Regions from separate parts of the Homo sapiens genome. Here region 2 is linked to region 1. The links come from fine-mapping of genetic effects on gene expression. A gene starts in region 1. The other region holds a variant in brackets. All regions are shown on one strand. Distances are from middle to middle.

The links. PIP is the estimated chance that this variant, and not a neighbour inherited with it, causes the effect.
Region 2: its variant is fine-mapped to the expression of RPS6KA4 in whole blood (INTERVAL, PIP above 0.99).

Annotation. Positions count from the first base shown.
Region 1 is chr11:64,354,220-64,362,538 of GRCh38, forward strand. It overlaps RPS6KA4 (ribosomal protein S6 kinase A4), which reads left to right and starts at 4,943. Exons shown (of 17, transcript NM_003942.3): 1 at 4,943-5,071; 2 at 5,159-5,230; 3 at 5,944-6,162; 4 at 6,258-6,373; 5 at 6,915-7,022; 6 at 7,250-7,330; 7 at 7,423-7,526; 8 at 7,633-7,783. The coding sequence starts at 5,017. CCDC88B (coiled-coil domain containing 88B) reads left to right here. Exons shown (of 27, transcript NM_032251.6): 25 at 975-1,181; 26 at 1,341-1,409; 27 at 2,820-3,315. The coding sequence ends at 2,875. RefSeq lists a silencer at 4,729-5,218 and enhancers at 4,968-5,495, 6,229-6,338.
Region 2 is chr11:64,385,714-64,394,032 of GRCh38, forward strand. LOC124902688 (a long non-coding RNA gene) reads left to right here and starts at 1,394. Exons shown (of 2, transcript XR_007062718.1): 1 at 1,394-1,652; 2 at 4,413-4,600. The variant G/A (reference allele first, on the strand shown) is at 3,400.

The DNA.
Region 1 (8,319 bases):
GTCCCCCACCTTGGCACCTGCCTCACTGCCTGGCCTGCATGCGTGACCCCATTGGCCTTCCCTGAGGCCTGCCCCCCCTGCCCTGATGCCACCAGGGGCTCTTTTCCCTGGGTCCTACAGGGTCACCCTTGGCCCACACCTCCCTCCTGCCTGTGCTGTCCCCGACCCAGCCTGCCCCATCCGCAGCGGAGCCCAGGATCTGGGAGGTGCAGTGGACTCTAGGGAGAGGTCATTGTTCCTAGACTGCAGATGAGGAGACTGAGGCCCCGGGAGGGGAAGCTTTTGCCCAAGGTCATGCAGTGAGTTAGTATGAAGGCCAGCACAGGGCCAGTGTCCTGCTGCCCCACTCATTTGCCTGGCTTCTCCCCCACCTCTGCACCTCCCCTCCCTGGCCCTGGGCAGCTTCACCCACTGGCCCCTCTACTCCATCCAGGGCCCTGTTCCTCTGACCCCCTCCCTGCATGAGCCTCCGCCCCCCCCCTCTGACCCCTCCCCTGCATGAACCTCAGCCCCCTCTTCTGACCCCCTCCCTGCATGAGACTCAGTCCCCGTTCCCTTCCTCTGACCCCCTCCCTGCATAAGCCTCAGCCTCCCCCCCTCCTCTGACCCTCTCCCTGCATGAGCCTCAGCCTCCTCCCCTCCTCTGACCCCCTCCCTGCATGAGCCTCAGCCCCCACTTCCCTTCTCTGACCTCCTCCCTGCAGGAGCCTCAGCCCCCCCGCTCCCCTCGTCTGACCCCCTCCCTGCATGAGCCTCAGCTCCCTCTCCCCTCCTCTGGCCCTCTCCGTGCATGAGCCTCAGCCCCCACTTCCCTTCTCTGACCTCCTTCCTGCAGGAGCCTCAGCACCCCCTCCCCTTGTCTGACCCCCTCCCTGCGTGAGCCTCAGCCTCCCCCCATTCTCTGACCTCCTCCCTACAGGAGCCTCAGCTCCCGTCCCCTCCTCTCACCCCCTCCCTGCATGTACCTCTTGCAGGGTCCCCTTCCCCGGCACCCATGCGCCGGGCCCAGAGCTCCCTCTGCCTGCGGGATGAGACCTTGGCAGGCGGGCAGCGGCGGAAACTCAGCTCAAGGTTCCCGGTGGGGCGAAGCTCTGAGTCATTCAGCCCTGGGGACACCCCTAGGCAACGATTCCGACAGCGCCATCCAGGCCCCCTGGGGGCGCCCGTCTCCCACAGCAAAGGTGAGGGACAAGGGTCACTGTACCAGCCAGCCCCCCAACTCTTTGTGGACCCACCAGCTCCTTGGGGGAGGAGGCTTCCTTCTTGTCCCCTGTGTCTCCTGCAAGCTCTGTCCACTTCCGCACTGGCCCTGGGCCCAGTGGTTGCCTTGTGCCTCCCAGGACCTGGTGTGGGATGGGAGAACTCCGCTGAGACCCTGCAGGAACACGAAACAGATGCCAACCGAGAGGGTGAGTGGGGGACTGTGGAAGGAGTAGTATTCTTTGTCCTGCCTGGGGCCCCTGGCAGAACCTCATTCATCCATTCTTTCATTCGACAATGATCCTTTACCAAGTGCCAGGTGACGTGCTGGCAGGGGACACAGCAGGGAACGTTCTGGTGTGAGGAGGCAGATAGTAAACAATTTGCCTAAAAATAATTATTATCTACAACAGCCCTGTCCACTAGAAATATGGTGTGAACCACATGATAATTTTAACTTTTCCAGTAGGCTTACCAGAAAAAGTGAAAAGAGACAGGTACAATGGATTTTAATAACATTTAACTCAATATGCCTACGCTATTACCATTTCAGCATGTAGCCAGTGTAAAAATCATGAATGAGCTATTAGACGTGATGTTTTTTTTTTTTTTTTGAGATGGAATTTCACTCTTTGGCTCACTGCAACCTCCTCCTCCCAGGTTCAAACGATTCTCCTGGCTCAGCCTCCCAAGTAGCTGGGATTACAGGCATGGGCCACCACGCCAGGCTAATTTTGTATAATTATTATTATTTTTTTTAGTAGAGACGGGGTTTCACCATGTTGGTCAGGCTGGTCTCGAACTCCTGACCTCAGGTGATCCGCCCGCTTCAGCCTCCCAAAGTGCTGGGATTATAGGTGTGAGCCACCCAGCCAGACGTGATTTTTTTCATAGTAAGTCTTTGGCAGTTTCGGAGGCCAAGGCAGGCAGATCACTTGAGGCCAGAAGTTAGAGACCAGCCTAGCCAAAATGGTGAAATCCCGTCTCTACTAAAACTACAAAAATTAGCCAGGCATGGTGTCCCATGCCTGTAATCCCACCTACTCAGGGGGCTGAGGCAGGAGAATCGCTTGAACCTGGGAGGCAGAGGGTGCAGTGAGCCAAGATCACGCCATTGCACTCCAGCGTTGGTGACAGAGTGAGACTGTCTCAAAAACAAAAAACAAAAAACAAAAAAACATAGTAGGTCTTTGAAGCACGTCACAGGCCAACCCCATCTCACCTACTTAGCTCCGCCCTGGGCAGCTCAGCCCTAGACCCGGCTGGACCATCAGGAGGCGCTAATGCTCTGGGAAGAAAGGAGAGCAGGGGAGGGGTCAGGAGCTCAGGAGCTCTGGGCAGGCTGGTTGGAGTTTTAGTAACTGGGGTGCTGGGGTGGGCCTCAGAGAGGATGTGAAATTGGAGCAAAGACTTGGAGGGGAGAGTTTGTCGTGTGGACATACCTGAGAACAGCATTCTGGGCAGAGGGAACCGCTGAGGGAACAGCAGGCGTGGTGCAGCTGGAAGCGGGGGGTATTGGCAGGTCGGGGGTGGGCAGAAGGTGCTCGAGCCTGTGGGCCTCCTGGGACTCTGGGAGTCCTCCTGAGGGAAGCAGATCTCAGCTGAGCCTTTCCCTCTAGGCCCTGAGGTACAGGAACCGGAGAAACGTCCCCTCACCCCATCCCTCAGCCAGTGACACCGTGGGAACAGCAGGCTTGGGAGTGCAGCCTTCTCGGCACTGGAGTGTCAGCGGAGGCCCCAGGCAGCCCAAGAGCTCAGGGAGCCAGGGACCCCAAGGGGAGTCCTTGGACAAGGAGGCCTGGGCCCTGAGATCCTCCACGGTCAGCGCCGGGGCCCGGAGATGGAGCTGGGACGAGTGTGTGGACAGGGGGGATGGCTGGCCCCCACGAGCAGCTCCAGGCTGGAGTTCTGGTTCTTCCAGGTGGCTCCCGCTGAGGCAGCGGTCTCTGGGGGATCCCCCAGCTGAAGGAGGCTGGCAGGAGTTGGCAAGAGAACCCCCTGCCCTGTCCAGGTGGGAAGCTGAGTCCCAGTGCTGGGGGACTGTGGCCTGGGCTGATCTTGAGCCTTAACTGGACATGAGGGGCATGAGAATAAAGCTGAACTGCAGCCTCCTGAGTCTTGCTCTGTCTGTTGGCCGCACTGGGTACCTCAGGGCACCAGGACACATGCCGCCCCAGTCCTGCTGGTTGGTGGGGGTCTGTGGGCAGAGGGCCCCTGCCTGGACAGGGCAGCACAGGCCTTTCTCCAGGGTCTTGGCCAGTCCGGCCGGCCAAAGCCCGGATGTCCTGGTGAGGTGGAGAGGGGATGACATCCTGGGTAGCCAGCAGGGATTGGGGTCTAAGATCTGGGCTCAGGGGTGTGGGGCAGTGAAGCCCCTGTTGCCCCGCCCCCACCCTCTCCCAGGGCACTGTCTTCTCTCTGTTCACATCCTCCTCCTACTCATCTCCCCTCCCTCCTTGAGGTTGAGCCCCCTCCCCAGGGAGTTCTCAGCCTGGCGGGGCATCACTTAATGCCAGGGGTTGCCAGGAGAGGTGGGAGGGACGCTGGCTCTCTGACCAGGGCCTCTAGCCTGATGCCTGAGAGGCGGGGCAATTCGGCTGGGGTGCAGGATGTGAGTCAGGGTACCTGGGGCCACCCAGGGGAGGGTGGAGCTGCCCAGGGCTGAGATAAGGCAGCCTGAACTTGGGGGGTGCAGAGCTGGGAGGGACGGTCCGTCCGGCCTCCCAGGTGTGACCTGCAGCAGCTTGAGTTCCTCCTCCTCTCAGCCAGGGCTTCACAGGACAGGGGCGTGGGGTGGACACCCTGGCCTCTCCAGCTGGCAGAGGAGCTGAGAGCCCCTCCCACCGGCCTCAGGGTGTGGGGCCTCATGGCTGTCCCACTCTGCTAGGTGGCCCCATTGGTGGTCAGGAAGGGAAAGGCAGGAAGAAGACGGAGCAGGGGCTCAGGAGGACCAGTCAGCAGGGGCCCTGGGCCTCATGGGGAGAGGGGGCAGCCCCGTGTGGCACTGACATCTCTTCTTGAGGCCTGCTCAGGGCTCTAAGCTGGGTACTGCACCAGGCTAGGAGACAACAGGAGCAGAACACGTGAGGTGCGCATGGCACCTGGTGGGCTCTGCACGGTGACTGGGGGCTGAAGTGCTTCTGCAGGCACCCCCGACAGAAAGCTGGTCAGAAAACTGGCCACTCCTCTCCTTGCCATGGGGTCCCAGGCCGGGCTCCAGCCCCCTCTTGGTGATGAGGCTCCTCCTTGCAAAGGCCAGTCCTCTGGGGAGAGGGGCCCTGCTGGCCACCCCCAGGACGATGGAGTGGGGTGGGCTCCACTGCCTGAGAGTTGGGTGACTTCCAGGATCCAGACCCCCTCTCAGCCTGCCCAGCACCAGGCACCTCGTCCCCCACCTTGGGGCACAGACTCCTAATGTCCTCCAGCCACTGGCTGCAGCCGGCATTCCCGGGCAGATTCCTGGCTTGGGGACTAATGCCCCAGAGGCTCCAGGTTACCCACGGGCTCAGGGATGGCTCCCACGGGGTGTTTCCAGTTCCCGGGAGAGTCGAGTAAGGTCCCGGAGCGCACGGCCCTGAGGCCTGGCCTGGGGGCTCGGGAGACAGGGCGGCCCCAGCCGGCCGCCCACCGGCAGCCCGGCGCTGTCACGTTCCAGCCGCCTGACTCAGGCCGCGCAGGGCGGGGAGCCGGGAGGCGGTGCCGGCGCCCGCCTCGGCCCCGGAGGCGGCACCAGGAAGCGCCCGCCCCGGCCGGAGCCGCCATGTAACCGGCGCCGCCCGGAGCCCGAGCCGCGCGGGCCCCAGCGACCCGCCCGCCATGGGGGACGAGGACGACGATGAGAGCTGCGCCGTGGAGCTGCGGATCACAGAAGGTGGGTGTGGGGCCTGACTGCGGCTGCCCGGGGCAGGCCGGGACGGGTCATGGACCGGCTGGGCTCATTCGCCCCCTGTGCCCACAGCCAACCTGACCGGGCACGAGGAGAAGGTGAGCGTGGAGAACTTCGAGCTGCTCAAGGTGCTGGGCACGGGAGGTGAGGACCCCCATCCACCGGGCAGGCGTCCCAGGCGCGGTGCCCCTGACCTCCTGCCTGCTCACTCTTGGGCCTGGGCCAGGCCACTGAGCAGGCCCCCCACCCTTTCCCGGCACAGCCTGCCTTGCCTGCCCCGCCCTGCCTCGCCAGAGTTTGCATGCCCACTTCCAGGGCACTCCACATTGACATCACTCCTCCCTCCACGGTCCTGTGCGTGCATACCCCCCTGGATTTGCCAACACCCTGGGGAGGGGGACTGGCGCCCCTCTCAAGTGATTTGCATAGCTCCTCCCTTTCTTCCAATATGGGATCCCCCTCCCACATTTTGCAAATGCCCCAGCGCTGGTTTGCGCATCCCTTCCCCAGCCAGGTGCACACCTCTGCCTCCCTTCCTTGCACTGGCATCTTTTCACATCCATCTGATCTCTCGCAGGTTTGCATATGCCCCGCCCCCATGCCTCGCAGCAGGCCCCCTGGAGATGCATGCTCCCCAGCCTGGTTTGCACATCCTTTCCCTGGTTTTGCTGGGCACCCTCCCGGGGTGTGCACACCCTTTCCTTAGAAGGCTCTGCCAGCTTTTTGCACACCTGCCTGTTGCCCCAGCTCCTTCGCCTCATTTGCACACCCTCCTGGGTTGGCATCGCCCCCACCCCCCAAGCCTGCACCAATCTCCCGCTCACAGCCCACCCTCCACCCACTCGCTGCTCCCACAGCCTACGGCAAGGTGTTCCTGGTGCGGAAGGCGGGCGGGCACGACGCGGGGAAGCTGTACGCCATGAAGGTGCTGCGCAAGGCGGCGCTGGTGCAGCGCGCCAAGACGCAAGAGCACACGCGCACCGAGCGCTCGGTGCTGGAGCTGGTGCGCCAGGCGCCCTTCCTGGTCACGCTGCACTACGCTTTCCAGACGGATGCCAAGCTGCACCTCATCCTGGGTGAGCGCACACCACATCCCAACGGGGTTGGGGTGGCTGGGGGCAGGCGAGGCCACCTGACGGGGCTGCTTCCTGACTTCCACTGCACCTCCCAGACTATGTGAGCGGCGGGGAGATGTTCACCCACCTCTACCAGCGCCAGTACTTCAAGGAGGCTGAGGTGCGCGTGTATGGGGGTGAGATCGTGCTGGCCCTGGAACACCTGCACAAGGTGGGTGAAGACCTGGCCGCAGGCTGTTGCTATGGAAACTGGGTCTGTGCCTTGGAAGGAATCTGCACGCAGGGCAGCCTCAGGCTTCCCCCTGGGCTTCCTGGGGGGCCAGTGGTGAGCTGGGTGGGAATTGGAGCTGCTTCCCCTGGACCCCTTGCAGGAAGCCTCAACGTTGCCTGGTGGGGTCCCCTCCCCTGGCACCTCCTCGAAGGGGCTTTCCTCTTTCAGGGAACTCGGGGCTGCGTTCACAGAACTTCCTCAAATGGAAACCTCACGGCCTGGCTCCTAAGGCCTCCTTGAAATGGAGCTCTTCACACAGACTTTCCTCTCTCTGGGACCTTGGGGCCTGATCCACGGGGCCCTCCTTCTTTGTTTTATATCTTAAATGGCCTTTCTTATTCAGTGGCTCTGCCCTGGAGACCCCCTCTACAGGCAGATGACTTTCTCTGGGGGGTCTCCTTATCCTGAGCAGGGCCAGGAGCTGGAGGAGCTGGGGAGGGTTTCGGGGAGGAAGCCTCAGCACCCCTCTTGCTCCTACCAGCTCGGCATCATTTACCGAGACCTGAAACTGGAGAATGTGCTGCTGGACTCCGAGGGCCACATTGTCCTCACGGACTTCGGGCTGAGCAAGGAGTTCCTGACGGAGGAGGTGAGTGGAGGCCACCTCTGCCTGCAGTGCCCCATTCAATCCTTCTCCTTCCTGCCTCTTCCTGCTCTGGGCCTGCATTCTGGGGCTGCAGAAGTGAATAGCTCCAAGAAGTTTCCACAGCTCAGCTCTCCAACCTCACAAGTTGAGCGAGTCTTACTCTGGGCCTTGTGGGGCACTGGGGCACAGGAGAGGTTTCGACATCTAAGCAGGACCTCTTGCCCTCCCAGAAAGAGCGGACCTTCTCCTTCTGTGGCACCATCGAGTACATGGCCCCCGAAATCATCCGTAGCAAGACGGGGCATGGCAAGGTAGGTTGGCAGGGAAGTGGGGCTGGGGGAGGTGGAAAGGTGGGGTGTGAGGCAGGGGAGATGCAGGCCCTCACCCCGGCTCCACCCGGCAGGCTGTGGACTGGTGGAGCCTGGGCATCTTGCTCTTCGAGCTGCTGACGGGGGCCTCGCCCTTCACCCTGGAGGGCGAGAGGAACACGCAGGCTGAGGTGTCTCGGTGAGTAGGGCTGGACGTGGAGGGCGGCCAGAGGGCTGCAGGGCCTGCCTGGGCAGGGCTGTGGGTGGGGGGCTTGCTGCCCCTGACACCCCCCCAATCCTCCCAGACGGATCCTGAAGTGCTCCCCTCCCTTCCCCCCTCGGATCGGGCCCGTGGCGCAGGACCTGCTGCAGCGGCTGCTTTGTAAGGATCCTAAGAAGCGATTGGGCGCGGGGCCCCAGGGGGCACAAGAAGTCCGGAACCATCCCTTCTTCCAGGTGAGGCTGACTCAGGGCCCCATACCTCCTGGTGCATACCCAGGTGGGGCTGCTGTTCCAGGTTGAGGTTGTGCCTGGCCAGTTTCACTTTATTTGGAAATCCCCCCAGAGAAAGAAAGCAAGTGTGTGTCAGCTAGGTTTCTCTTCACATCCATCCCCACTGAAACTTGGCAGATGTGTTCCTGAAAGAAAGGATTCTAGGTTCATTGGCTGTTGGGGCTGTCAGGGATTTGAGAATGGATTGGTCGGTCCTTTCACTGGACAGACCCAGAGAAGGCAGGTGACCTGCCCCCGACGGCACAGTAAATGGTGCCGAGTTGGGAATAGACCTTGGGTCTAGATAGATCTCCTGCTGGTCCAAATCAGTACGGAAACCCACACTTATGGCTTTTAGCACCCACCCAGGCATTTTGTTCTTTGTCCCCGTCCCTGTACAGTCTGTGTGCCTGTCATTCAGATGGACGGTTGATCAGCACACATGGGTGTTTGCTCACTTGTTAGGAGCACACACATGTTAGAGTGCAGTGCAGAGTGAA
Region 2 (8,319 bases), 31 kb after region 1:
TCCAGAGAAAGTGTCCGTGGTTGCCTGTGGAAAGAGGAAGCACTTTCTGGCTATTTCCTTTAATAACAACAAGAGTAGCGATGACGTTGAGCCCATTTATTGAGCCTCATGATGTGCCAGGCCCTGTGCCACACAGGTAGAAGGTCACACATAGGATCCCTGCTGCTGCTGTTGTTAATAGTCATGGCCAATGTTATTACTGAATCCTTCTCTGTACCAGGAGCCAGGCACCGGGCCCAGCACTGTCTATAATTTCCTTTCATGAACAGGTTCTACATTATCATCATCTGCAATTGTTTCCATGTTGTGGATGAAGAAAATGAGGCTTGGAGAGAGAAAGTAAATTGTCCAAGGTCACACAAAGGCATCCACAGGCATTGGCCCTAGAGCCTGGGCCTCCCTACTTGAGAACTAAGCCCTTAACCACAGTGGTTGAGCGGTTATGCTGCCTCTCAAGGTTATCTCCTGCCTAAGAGATATTTCTTTCTAGCAGATGTGTGGTGGTTCGCTTTCCTCTGCAATCCGTTTTAGCTCTCTTTGCCCCAAGGATCTGGTTCTCGCTCCGACTCTGCAGAGCCTAGAGCTCCATAGACGCCAGCCCCGGGCTCTCTTTGCTGGAGGTGGCATGGCAGCTCCATTTGCTGTCTTTGTGAAATAAATCATGTCAGTCATGTGACAGCGCACTGTCCCTCATCATAGCCTAGCTTTCCATTCTGATCCACAACTTGGTACCTCAATGTGAAGACTGTGGTCTGGAATGACAAGATTCCAGAATACAGCCATGAGTCACTTAGCCATGGGGACACGTTCTGAGAAATGCATTGTTAGGTGATTTCATCACTGTGTGAACATCAGAGTGCACTTACACAAACCTGGATGGGTAGCCCGCAACACAGCTAGGCTAGATGGTACAGCTGATTGCTCCCACACCACAAGCCTGTATGGCAGGAAGTGCTGAGTAGCAGAGGCAATTGGAATAGAATGGTATTTGCGTATCTAAATGTATCTAATCATAGAAAAGGTGGCACATTGCACTATGATGATATGATGGCTATGAATGACATCACTAGATGAGAAAAATTTTTCAGCTCCCTTATAATCTTTTATTTTTGTTATTTTTCTTTTCTTTCTTTCTTTCTTTCTTTCCCTCCCTCCCTCCCTCCCTCCCTCCCTCCCTCCCTCCCTCCCTTCCTTCCTTCCTTCCTTCCTTCCTTCCTTTCTTTCAAAAAATAAAAGCATACAGACAACCTCTTGCTATGTTGCCCAGGCTGTAGTCAAACTCCTCGCTTCAAGCAATCCTCCTGCTTTGGCCTCCCAAGTCCCAACCATGTTAGCCAGGCTGGTATCGAACTCCTGGCCTGAAGTGATCTGGCCACCTCAGCTTCCCAAAGTGCCAGGACTATAGGTGTGAGCCACCACACCCAGCCTCCATTATAATCCTATAGGACCACCATGGAATATATGGTCCCACACTGTCCAAAACATCATCATGCAGCCCATGAAATTAAACTGTTTCAAGGAGAAAAGCAAAGAACACAAATGAAAGATGGGTGAGGAGGAATCAATTGTGTGAACACTCAAGAGATGAAGACGCTGAGGTCCCAGTAGACCACCGGCTGTCAGCAGCGGAATATGATAGCAGATTTGTTAAGGTAAGCACCACAAAACAGTGCTGCATCCCAGGTGTAGAATGGGCTGAGAACATCTGACACTTTGCCTCCTCTTTTTTGATGTCATAATCACTGTTGTATTATTCTCCACAAGCATCCAGGAGGGAGATTAGTTTGGGCCCCTATCCTCTTAGTTTTATTAGCTCTGTAGAAAGTATGGCTGGCCAGGTGCAGTGGCTTATGCCTGTAATCCTGGCATTTTGGGAGGCCAAGGTGGGCGGATCGCTTGAGGCCAGGTGTTCCATACCAGCCTGGTTAACATGTGTAATCCTGTCTCTACCAAAAATACAAAAATTAGCCAGGCATAGTGGTGCATGCCTGTAATCCCAGCTACTCTGGAGGCTGAGGCAGGAGAATCACTTGAACTTGGGAGGTGGAGGTTGCAATGAGCCGAGATCGTGCCACTGCACTCCAGCCTGGGCGGAAGAGCGAGACTCTGTCTCAAAAAAAAAAAAAAAAAAAAAAAAAGTATGGCCAAGGCTGGTATTTTCTATACTCCTGTCTTCCTTAGCTTCCTTAGCAACACAAAAGCTATAGTGTTGGGTGTCAATGGGCTTTTTATAATATCACATTTCCTAGCCTTTCAGAAATAGGCCTATAAGATGTAAGCAAAGGTTATTGAGTATGGTTTCTGGGAAAGCTCTCCAAAGGAGGCTAAGCTGAGAGGCATGTCCTTTTGCCTTGCCCCTTCCTACTCTCTGCTGCCTGAAATGTGGATGTGATGTCTGGAGCTGCAGTAGCCATTTTGGGATCATGAGGTAGCCCCAAGGATGGGAGCCTCATGTTAATGATGGCAGAGAGCAAGATAGAATGAGCCTGGGTCACTGATGGCTGTGGACCTGCTGTATCAACCCTGGGCTGGCTAACTCTAGACTTCTTTTCACATGAGAGCAAAATTTAACCTCTCCCTTATTATAGCCACTGTTATTTTGATTCTCTGTAGCTTGTAGCCAGGTGCAATTCTTAACCGATAGCAAAGCTTTTGAGCACACCTGATGCCTCACTTCCCATCTCTATTCATGAATAAAGGGAAGTTTGACATGGATATAGCAGGGTGTCCCTGAGGCATCTGTACTGGGAACAGAGCCTGCTTTTTGTGGGCCTGGGGGCCTTGTGTTGGCTTGGTCCTGTTTGCAGGAACGGGCATGCCCGCTGGTTTTATCTCTCAGAACTGGAGGAGGAGAATGAAGTCGTTTGGTGCAGAGGTGCCCTGGGAGGGGAAGGGGCAGCAAGAATGGTGGAGGTGGATGCTGCGAAGTGACGGCTGGGCTGGGGCCTGGGGATCTGTTTCTGGGAGTGGTAGCAAACTTCTGGGCTCAGGCAGTGTCCCTTCTGGCCTGGGTGACAAAGAACAGTGCAGCTATGGGACAGCACAAAGTCGTGTGTTTCTGCCCCAACCCTAGCCTAACCTTGACTCTCTAGGACTGGCAGCCTGGGAACACTGGAGGCCAGCAGAAGCAGGGGATGCAGAGAGGATGGGGCCAGGTGGAAGCCAGGTGTGGGCTTGGACCTGAGCATGTGGGAGACACTCAACATGCCCTGGAATCCCCAGGGGTGGCAGGTGCTGAGGTGGGCTGTGCTCTGTGGGTGTGCAGCCGGGCACTAAGAATCTTGGTAATTTAGCTGGAGAGCTTGTTTGTGCCCCGGGTAGCCGAGCTGGACATGCAGGTTGCAGAGGGAGTTGGAAGCTGATGGACTTAATGAACATCGTAAATCCCACGGCACTCCC[G/A]CATCGTGCCTCCCTGTTGCCTGGTGGAGACTTACCTCTTCAGAAAGCTGGTTTCAGCAATCGCTCCATAAACATCCTTGAAGTTCATGGCCCTCTTTGCTGTCTCGGAGCTCACGCTGCACTTTCTCAGTCTGTTCCATGTTTGCTGATTGAATCAGCAATTCAGCCATTTGGATTAAAAGGCATACACAATTTTTTTTTTTTGAAAGCAAAAACATCTTCTGTTGAAGCAGCTCTGCCTGACCTACCATTTGCCAAAGGAGATGTTCTCAGAAACGTGTTGTTGCCAATGCTCAGAATAAAGATCTGAAAGCCTGTAGCAAGGATCAGAAGCCTCATGGCCAACATCTCTGCATTTATAAAGCATGATTTCTCCTGTGAGTTTGGTGAGGAGATATTTTAACCCTCATTTTGCAGATGGAGAAGGTACGGGGAGGTCTTGCATGTGATGATGAGGCCAGTCATTGGTGGAGACTCCAGGTGTCTTTTTATGTCATCTCACCATCCCTTAGACTGTTAGCTTCAAGGGAAGATGGGCTCATTATTAGCCCAAATATTGACTTACATAGAATAAAAGTGGTAGCTGATATTTGAGCATGGACTCTGAGCCTGGCCCAGGACCAAGTGGCTTTGATCTGTGATTTTGTGTAGTGTGTGTAGCTTACCCAGCTCCTGTTCCTCCCACTTGTGCTTTCTGGTCCCTCCAAGCTTGCTCTAGGTCAGTTGCTGGAATGCACGGGATGCTGGGATAGATGCTCACCCATTTCTGCTGGTCACAGATGAGGAAGCACCTAGCCCTAATGGCAGCTGGCAGCCAGCCTGTCACCCCAAGGACACCATACCTCAGGGTCCAGCTGAGGCTATGGATGACAGAGGAGAGAGGGAAGAGGTCAAGTCCTGAGGACACAGCTGAGCTGCTGGATCGAACCAACCCTGAAGTCCACCCTACTGCTGAACTGTCCTTTAGCCAGGCTGCATCTCCATTTATCATTTTATTTCTTGGCACCTTCCAGAGCCAAGAGAGAGAATCTTCATGTCCAAGGGTCAGCATGCAGCTCATAGAGGGGCCGGAAATCACAGCTGTGTCTGTGCTACTTCTTCCCATCTTCAGGTGCCATGAGTGAATCAGGAAAAGATATTGGTACTGTATTAGTCTGTTCTCATACTGTTAATAAAGACATACCTGAGACTCTGTAATTTACAAAGGAAAAAGGTTTAATTGACTCACAGTTCCCAGAGCTGGGGAGGCCTCAGGAAACTTACAATAATGAGAGAAGGGAAAGCAAACACGTCCTTCTTCACAGGGCAGCAGGAGAGAGAAGAATGAGCAAAGATGGAAAGCCCCTTATAGAACCATCAAATCTCATGAGAACTCACTCACTATTATGAGAATAGCATGGGGGTAACCACCACCATGATTCAATTACCTCCCACCAGGTCCCTCCCACTACATGTGGGGATTATGGAAACTACAATTCAAGATGAGATTTGGGTGGGGACACAGCCAAAACATATCAGGGACTAAGGATACCAAGTCACGGGAGTCATCAGCTCAGTTCAATGGTGTGTCAATTAACAAAGTGTTCTGCAGTAAGAAATCACCCCATCTGGGTGATATGTGTAACTGGCAGAGGAAGTTGGCTCAGTGATGGGGAGCTTCTAAAGAAGCCTGGCCTGGCTGTGGTGTGGGATGTGGACACTGGCCCAACAGAGGGGCCTGTGGCTCCAGCAGAGGGGACATGCAGGTAGCCGATGGCCCAGAGCAGGGCTGTACTCCTTCCACCACACACCACCATTCTTCAGGTGCGGTGACAAGGCAGGGGAAGCTGCTGGGATCTCTTGGGACTTCCAAGGGGCTGAGGTTGTTCATTTACCAGACTTCAGTGGTTACTACAGAGGGCTGTCCTGTGGCCCACAGGGGGCAGGGCAAGAATGAGAGTGGACTTGGGGCCGGGTGTGGTGGCTCACACCTGTAATCCCAACATTTAGGGAGGCCGAGGCAGGTGGATGAATTGAGGTCAGGAGTTCGAGAGCAGCCTGGCCAACATGGTGAAACCCCATCTCTACTAAAAAAATACAAAGATTTAGTGGTGGCCCGCGCCTGTAGTCCCAGCTACTTGGGAGGCTGAGGCAGGAAAACCACATGAGCCCAGTGGGTGGAGGTTGCGGTGAGCTGCGATTGCACCACTGCACTCCAGCCTGGGGGGCAGAGCAAGACTCTGTCTCAAAAAAAAAAAAAAAAAAAAAAAAAAAGAAAAGAAAAGAAAACAAAAAGAGAGTGGACTTGGCCCAGAGGTGGGTGACGGTCAGTAGCCACCTGTGGAGCCTGGGGCTCTGTGCCACGGTGGCCTCTCTGGAGATAAGGTGGCGGGTGCCAAAGGGAGGGACCCTCAGGGAGGAGGCAGTGACTTGGCCAGTTCACACTCCAAGTCTGTATTTTGGCTCAGCTGGCCCAGAAGTTCCTTGGCACCCCTTTCCCCAGAGGGAGACGTGTGCAATGTGTGCAGAGCCCCGCAAGGGGAGGACAGGTTGGCTCCCCACTGCCCCCAGCAGAGGGTGGGAGTGAGACTTAAGAGATGGGACCTCAGTTTCTCAGTGGCAGGTAGTGGGGTGCTGCCCACAGCAGCATTTGCAAGCTATGTTCCTTGGAGCTCAAGGAGGTTGGAAGTTTATGATAGATGCTCAGCAAAAATGTTGTCATCAGCCGTGTACTGTGCTGCCTCTTGGAAAGTCATCAAGGGCCTCAGCGCATTAAATGCTCTGAGGAGTCCTGCATTGTTATATGTGTTTAATTCAAGGCTCCCCATGGCACACCCAGCAATGCCTGTGGAGCACTGGGGTTCCCTGGAATGTAGTTTGGAAACTGTTCTGGATCTGGCTTGCTCTGAGCCTGGACATTGTCTTGGGAACAGGCCAGGCTTGTCATGGCAGGTGGTTTATGAACAGAAAGCTGCCTCATTAATTTGCAGGGAGGTCATCTTCCCTTGCACCCATCATCCCAGATCACTCAGCTCTGGGCAGGCCCCTTGCTCTCTCCCCACAAGCCAGGGAGCTCAGCCTGTTTTTTTTTTTTTTTTCCTTGAGACGGAGTCTCGTTCTATTGCCCAGGCTCTGGAGAGTGCAGTGCTGTGATCTCCCCTCACTGCAACCTCCGCCTCCCAGGTTCAAGCGATTCTCCTGCCTCAGCCTCCCAAATAGCTGGGATTACAGGCACCTGCTACCACGCCCAGCTAATTTTTGTATTTTTAGTAGAGACGGGGTTTCTCCATGTTGGTCAGGCTGGTCTTGAACTCCCGACCTCAGGTGATCTGCCTGCCTCGGCCTCCCAAAGTGCTGGGATTACAGGCATGAGCCACCGCGCCCGGCCACTCAGCCTGTCCTTCTAAGGCAGTTGCTACAGCTTTGTCTTTTAGGGTTTTTTTCTAGGAGGGAGAATGGTCCCAGGACTCCCTCCTGTGTGACTCTTGCAGGTCACTGCATGCTGGGAAGGGGAGGAGGGTCCTGATCTCAGGTAGATCTAGGACATTCCATTCCCGGGCTGGTTCCTGATTTCCCTTCTGGGGTTGTTCCCCAGGCCTCTGTAGCGGGGGGCCCTGTTGGGGCTGGGGGAGCTCAATCTCTGCAGCGGACTTTGGGTCAATCCTTTCCTGGTTCTGTTTCTGTTTCCAAAGAGCCATGCATTCACTCACAACGAGAACTTTCTCTACATGTAAGGCTGGAGCTGGGCCCAGGGATAGAGAAGTGGACAAGATGAAGCTTTGTCCCTGCCCTCAGTGGGTGCTCATGTGGTGTGGGGACAAAGACCTTAGCTGATGAGGCCGCGAGGGAGGTGGTTCCAGGGAGCACATGAGAGGGAGGCACTTAACTTTATCCATGGGGGCTGGAAGGGATTCAGGAGGTACCAGGAAGGCTGGAGAACCACAGAAACAGGGTGCAGCTCCCAGAACCCGAGGCAAAGTCAGGCCACGGGAGCGATCGGCCGCTGCCACCATTGAACACTGGGTGCCACGCCTGGCCCCACTGCAGCCTCTGGCTCTGTGCCCCAAAAGCCACCTACTGTCCCTGAAGTTGGACACTGTGGCCAGAATGGACGGACTTGACACTGTCCCTAATTCTTTTTTTTTTTTTTTTTTTTGAGACAGAGTCTCTCTCTGCCGCCCAGGCTGGAGCGCAGTGGCCTGATCTCGGCTCACTGCAACCTCCACCTCCTGGGTTCAAGTCATTCTCCTGCCTCAGCCTCCCCAGTAGTTGGGATTACAGGCATGCGCCATCACGCCTGGCTAATTTTTATATTTTTAGTAGAGATGGGGTTTCACCGTGTTGGTCAGGCTGTTCTCGAACTCCTGACCTCAGGTGATCCACCTGCCTTGGCCTCCCAAAGTGCTGGGATTACAGGCATGAGCCACCGCGTCTGGCCTCTCTCTTTTTTTTAGAGACAGGGTCTTGCTCTGTTGCCCAGGCTGGAGTGCAGTGACACAGTCTTGGCTCACTGCAACCTCTGCCTCCAGGGTTCAAGTGATTCTTTTGCTTCGGCCTTCTGAGTAGTTGTGCCTGGCTGTGCCCAGCCAGGATAAATTTTTATTTAAGTCCTTTGCACACTTTCTTTCTTTTTTTTTTTTTTTTTATGGAGCTTCGCTCTTTAGCCCAGGCTGGAGTGAAGTGGCATGATCTCGGCTCATGGCAACCTCCCCCCACTGGGTTCAGGAGATTCTCCTGCCTCAGCCTCCCAAGTAATTGGGATTACAGGCGCCTGCCACCACACACAGCTAATTTTTTTGTATTTTTAGTAGAGACAGGGTTTTGTCATGTTGGCCAGGCTTGTCTCAAACTGCTGACCTCAGGTGATCCTCTCGCTTCAGCCTCCCAAAGTGCTAGGATTACAGGTGTGAGCTACCACGCCTAGCTCCCTTTGCACACTTT